2 separate regions of the Homo sapiens genome follow, and region 1 is linked to region 2. Evidence: fine-mapped expression QTL. A gene starts in region 2. The other region holds a variant in brackets. All regions are shown on one strand. Distances are from middle to middle.

What was found. PIP is the estimated chance that this variant, and not a neighbour inherited with it, causes the effect.
Region 1: its variant is the best candidate, but not a certain one, in a credible set for the expression of ANKRD22 in whole blood (INTERVAL, PIP 0.85).

The regions. Positions count from the first base shown.
Region 1 is chr10:88,822,230-88,825,151 of GRCh38, forward strand. It overlaps ANKRD22 (ankyrin repeat domain 22), which reads right to left. Exons shown (of 6, transcript NM_144590.3): 5 at 1,051-1,149; 6 at 1-789. The coding sequence ends at 712. Among named protein-coding and RNA genes, the nearest start is that of LIPM, 21 kb to the left of the region's middle. The variant T/G (reference allele first, on the strand shown) is at 1,106.
Region 2 is chr10:88,850,453-88,853,374 of GRCh38, forward strand. ANKRD22 (ankyrin repeat domain 22) reads right to left here and starts at 1,392. Exons shown (of 6, transcript NM_144590.3): 1 at 1,135-1,392. The coding sequence starts at 1,155.

The DNA of each region.
Region 1 (2,922 bases), 28 kb before region 2:
TGGTGTAAACACACTCACCGCTGACACTTGATAGATGTTTTTATTGAAATTCCTTCACCAAAGGAATATTTACTTGTGAATCTCTAAGCCCACACACATACACAAATACCATTCTGTACAAACATACGTATTTAATAATTTGATTCTTCTGCTCAATACTCAAAGGGGGCTGGGAGGAACAGTTTGTCTCCTAGGGCATGACATAGACTGGACAGTCTTTTTATAAGAGTGATACAACTGGGAAGGGAGAACGCTGTTTCAGAAGATAACTCAGATCCTCTTCTTCAGGAAAGACTGAGTTTGGAACACCAGGGCTTTTTTTTTTTTTTTTTTTTTTGAGACAGGGTCTCGCTGTGTTGCCCTGGCTGCTCTCAAACTCCTGAGTTCAAGTGATCCTCCCACCTCAGCCTCCCAAGTAGCTGGGATTACAGGCATGTACCACTGTGCCTAGCTGAAACATCAGTTTCTGACTGAAGTGGAGACTACAACAACTTTAGTGTTTCCCTTAGAAGGATTACGGCCATGGTGAACTTGACTGAGTAAACAATGCTATAAATAAAAAGCTCTTCCAAAACATTAACCATGGTAAGCATCATTATCCCCATAAAATGGTGGCATCCAGGTTAAATGGCCCACAGACCAAAAGTCTAAAATGAAGATAGAATCCAGTCGTTAACTTTTTCTGTATCTCCATCGGTGTGGTCACAAGGATTACAATGCTTTCCTTAGCATTAATTCAATCTGGGAAAATTTTAATCTCCGTGCAATATCCAGTGAGCTCTCACCATGCTGAGGGGGGAAAAATATACAGTTATTTCCAATAGAGTGCCCAAGATCTCGTACGTAGCTTAGACCAATTGACTCTCTGTGTTGGCAAGGGCTTTAAAAGGCAATCAGTCCTAATAGTAATAGGATAACTTCATTCCTTAATGAGGATGATTAATTTTACTGTTGTTTACGTCAGAGGCAAATAATTTACTTCAACATAAGGCCTAGATTAGAAGATGCTGCTGCTAGAGGAACCTCAGACCACGGTCCACCCTCCCTTACCTTATTCTTTATTGTGGGGTCTGCACGGGCTTCCAAGAGCAGAGGGATAAGAGAC[T/G]GGTTTTTCATTTCACAGGCATAATGTAATGCGGTACAGCCATACTGAAACACAAAGGGCCAAAACTTCAGCTCATAAGTCGGGCCCTCCACAGACCATAGCATGTGGCTTCATTGGCAAATCCTTTTCACACTTTGTAGTATACAACTAAGCAGAAAAATAGTCTGCAAACCATTGATAGACAACTATTTCTAGTACTTAAAAAATTTTTCGCCGGGCGCGGTGGCTCACGCCTGTAATCCCAGCACTTTGGGAGGCCGAGGCGGGCGGATCACGAGGTCAGAGGATCGAGACCGTCCTGGCTAACACGGTGAAACCCTGTCTCTACTAAAAGATACAAAAAATTAGCCGGGCGCGGTGGCGGGTGCCTGTAGTCCCAGCTACTCCGGAGGCTGAGGCAGGAGAATGGCTCGAACCCGGGAGGCGGAGCTTGCAGTGAGCCGAGATTGCGCCACTGCGCTCCAGCCTGGGCGACAGAGCGAGACTCCGTCTCAAAAAAAAAAAAAAAAAAATTTCTTCTCTGTCTCAATGTATATGTATGTTAGTGTCATATAAGCCATCAATCTCTGCCTTTTTGTTTTCCATTTTCTGTTCTAAAGAATGCAACTTAAAAAAGCTGATGCTGAATTGTGCCAAAGTTTCTTTGTCGCATGCTATATGCCTCGGTGATCATCACCTTGATCATGTCACCATCTTTCCCTTAAAGAGTCTCCACATGGCCCTTTACATAAACATTATCCTCTATGGTTTTGGTGATGATTCCTACTGAAGAAGTCGGGTGCTCTTGCTGCAGGACACCTGCAAGATCAGTGCAGTTCTACAGAGACATTTCCCAAACGTGATTTGTTATAGCTTATATTATGTGTTATAAGCTAGTGCATCTACTCTGTTGGTACTAATTTAAAACACTACAGGTCAAAAAAATTATAGCTAGGGCATTAGTGTCCAAAATTTGGCCTTTGGAAAAGTAGCCAAGCAACCATGGTGCTGGTGAGTGAAGAAATAGTACCTTTGGCTATCAAGACAGGTTTAGCTCTGGATCCCATTCCCTAGAAACACCTCTAAAATTATAGGAGATCATGTTGCAATTATTTATTTTTATTAAGTGGTGGCATGACAAATGGAAGTTCTGGCTCTGAATTTTGTCATGTGAAATAGAGTCTAATTATCCAAAAATACAAAACACTGTCTTACCTAGAAAGTAGATTTTAATACTCAGATAGTTTTTGAAAAAATTTTGGTATTAGAAGTGGTGTCTGTGTGTGTACCTGCATGTGTCTCAAACTCCTGAGTTCAAGGGATCCTCCCATCTCAGCCTTCCAAGTAGCTGGGACTACAGGCTAGTGTCACTGTGCCTAGCTGAAGGAATGCAATATCTCTATCTAGAGAGAGAAATACACATAAATTGCTGAGAAAATATCCTAGAGAAATTTTGGTCACAGGCAGGAATATTAAATCTATTGAATTTAAATGAAAAGACCAAGAAAAACCTTCAACAAACTTTTAACTTCATCTTTAATAATCTCTTACTTAATATATTTCAAAGCTATCTAAAGAAATGGTAATGCACAGTAACTGTCAATACAAATTTATCCAAAAGTTCTATTTGAAATAAAAGGGAATATAAATTTCATAAAGTTATTTTCTTTTGCTCTCTCTCTCTCTCTCTCTCTCTCTCACACACACACACACACACACACACACACACAACTGCCTGCATTTAAACATGATACCAGCATAGGCAAAACCGAAATGATGTAAATAATTGATAGAAACAGGAATGGGGCCATGGTCTCTATCATAAAACAATGGTAATA
Region 2 (2,922 bases):
CTCAGGATGGTGGTAAACAGATCACCCCTATGTCAGAACCACCTGGGATGCTCCTTTTAAAAAGTATACTTTTGTATCCTACCATAGACTGAGTGAAACAGACTCTCTGGGTTGGAGTCCCTTGAAACTGCATTTCAAACAAACTTCTCTCCCTGACACTTGGGCAGTCTAAAGTTTGAGAGTTACCAGAGTAGCATTTAAAAGCACTATATGTTTTGTCATTTTCATGTATATGATCCCTTCATGAGGCTAAAATCACTGAGCAAGACATACCTAGAGTTATAAACCAATCAAACACTGCATTTGCACACACGGAGAGATATATACACACATGGCATTAGAAATAACTGCAAATAAACTGTCTTTAATACTAGATCAAAACTATCCAAGAAGGTTCCCCTGAGCATCTGCAATGAAATGCAGATTAACCAGTTAATTGTGTCAGAGGAGAGAGAGAGTAAATTATGTATAATGACATCATTACACCTCTTGTACTCTTGTCTAAACATTCCTTGCTTGTACTTTCTTGAAACATCATTAAAAATCCATTTGATTCTAATAAGTTACTTCCAATACAAGTAAAAGTACCTCAGTATTTATCAGATGTGAAAAGAAAATAATCAAATCATCAAAATATGTTATTATTCCTCTTCTTCATAGTGATAGTCTTTACTAATATTTACTAAAGGTGAATCTCCCTTCAAATACCAAGCTGAAAGGCATTACTCTGGTCATGTGGTTCCATAAAAGAGGCAGTCAATCTTTTGGATATTTAGAAAATCCAATTGAGTACAATTTTCTCTTTTTCTCTGAGTGTTTGTCATGAGAAAAGCACAACTCAAACTCGATTTTGTCCAAATTATCCTTGCAAACATCCAGATACTATGAAATGTGTATTATATTCATCTCAACTTAGATCTAGCTAATATTTTAGAATTACAAAATACTTTGTCTTAAACTATTAAGAATATCAACAAGAATAACACATAGGACTTTATTTTTTCTGACTTAATGCTCCCCCAGGGAGTTGAACAGACAAAACAGAAATATATTAACAGGGATAGAAAATTGCATCTGAAAAGCATGAGTAACTTTTAACATCTTTGGAACTCTGCTTTCAGAAAGGTGATGTACCTCAGAGTATAGGATTCCCATGCTGGTCCTTCACAGGCTTACTTCACCTCTACAGCTCCTTGAATCTTCTGGAGGTATTTCTGATGAATATCAAAATCCTTCCTGGCTGAGAGGAAAGTCCCTAGAAGTCCAAGCTGGTGGCAAGCTCCAGGAGTGCTTTTCTAGCAAACACCTGTCAGTGCTTTTCCAGCAGCTCAGGCAGCAGCACACCTTCCAGAGAGCCCAGCCCAATGAAACAAAGGCACTGGTGTCATGTGTAACGACCCAAGCCTGTATCATCTAATGTTACAACCCTGAGGAGCCGGTTTCTGAGTCATATTTGCTCTGCCAGTGGTAACATGCAGGAAAGAAGGAAGCAAAGTTAAGGGAGGAAGAAAAGTTCTTACATTGGCAGGAAGGACTCACGGTTCAAACCAAGATACTGTATTTCAGACATTTCGTAATCAAAATCTGGTTTTCAGTGGCCATTGAGAAAGGCTAGAGACCAACAAACTTACTTGTGAGAGCCACACGTGTCTGGCAAAGAACTTGAAAAATAATCTTCAAAATTCTCAGCCTAACAAGTAACGCTTTTCCAGCTATTTATGCAGTTTTGTAAACTAATAAATTTACTAACATAATAAATCTTAAGTTGTTTTAAATATTCCAATACTATTCACACATTTAGCCAAATTACTTTATAATATTCAATTTAAAAATCATAAGTCTAAAATCAAATACTCTGTTATGCATTTTAAATTGCATCATCAATTTATTTATCAAACATGCTAGTATGCCCAATCTCTTAAATATTGTAAACATTTTATATGCTATATATGATATCATTCACACATTTTCCTTGAACTGAATACAATCACATCAAACTTTCCCAGAATTGAAACACTCGACCGTCCACACACCCATTATAACCATGGGACCAGCCCAAATGGGCCGTACTTTGTTGATAACAAATGTCAATTTACTCTGTAGATATAACAGAGCCAAAAACTGTAAGTCATTTAGCCCAGGCATGCACAATAAAAATGTTTTTGCCTCTAACAGAACCTAGAACAAATGATCCCTCCCCTGGGAACCAAGAAGACAAGGACATGACGGGAACCTAAATGCAGGACCTCTTTCAGAAGCTAGGGGCTCATTGGCCCAAAAGATCCAGGGCTGAAATCTGCCTCAACATACCTTACCTTTAGTGGTCAAATTTGAAGCCCTTCAATCAGTCCCTGCCAAACCAACATTCCTAAATCCTTTCCCTCACCCTCTAAGCCATACATTTTCTCAGATTCCAAACTGGGGAGGCAGATTTGAGCCCACCTCCTGTCTCCTTGCTGACCTGTCTTGCAATAAAGTTTTTCTTTCCTCAAAACCCAGTGTCCAGATATTGGCTTCTGTGAGCAGGGGGCAGCAAGCCTATTTGCTCAATAATATCATGGAAGAAATAGTTCAACCATCTCAAACCAATTGATGTGATTTTCCCAATCAGTTGAGGCTCCTTAGTGGCCAGAAACTAGTGACCAGGATACTAGGCCTGTGCTTATAAATATTCAGGGAAATTCTTCTTACTCCACTGGTGGATATACTGAGCTATTTTTATAATTATTTCAAAGATTTTATGTTTCACTATGCAGTTGACATCGAGGCCAGCCTCTCTGGAGTTTAAGAATTAGCTAATTCTTCCGTTGGAGGAGAGGGAAGTCTGCAATACCCACTAAAATTGCAGCTGACTTCCTCTTTGGCTTGGTTTGATTTTGTATTTCTGTAGACTCTTAAGACATTTAAGTGTCTTCCCATTGA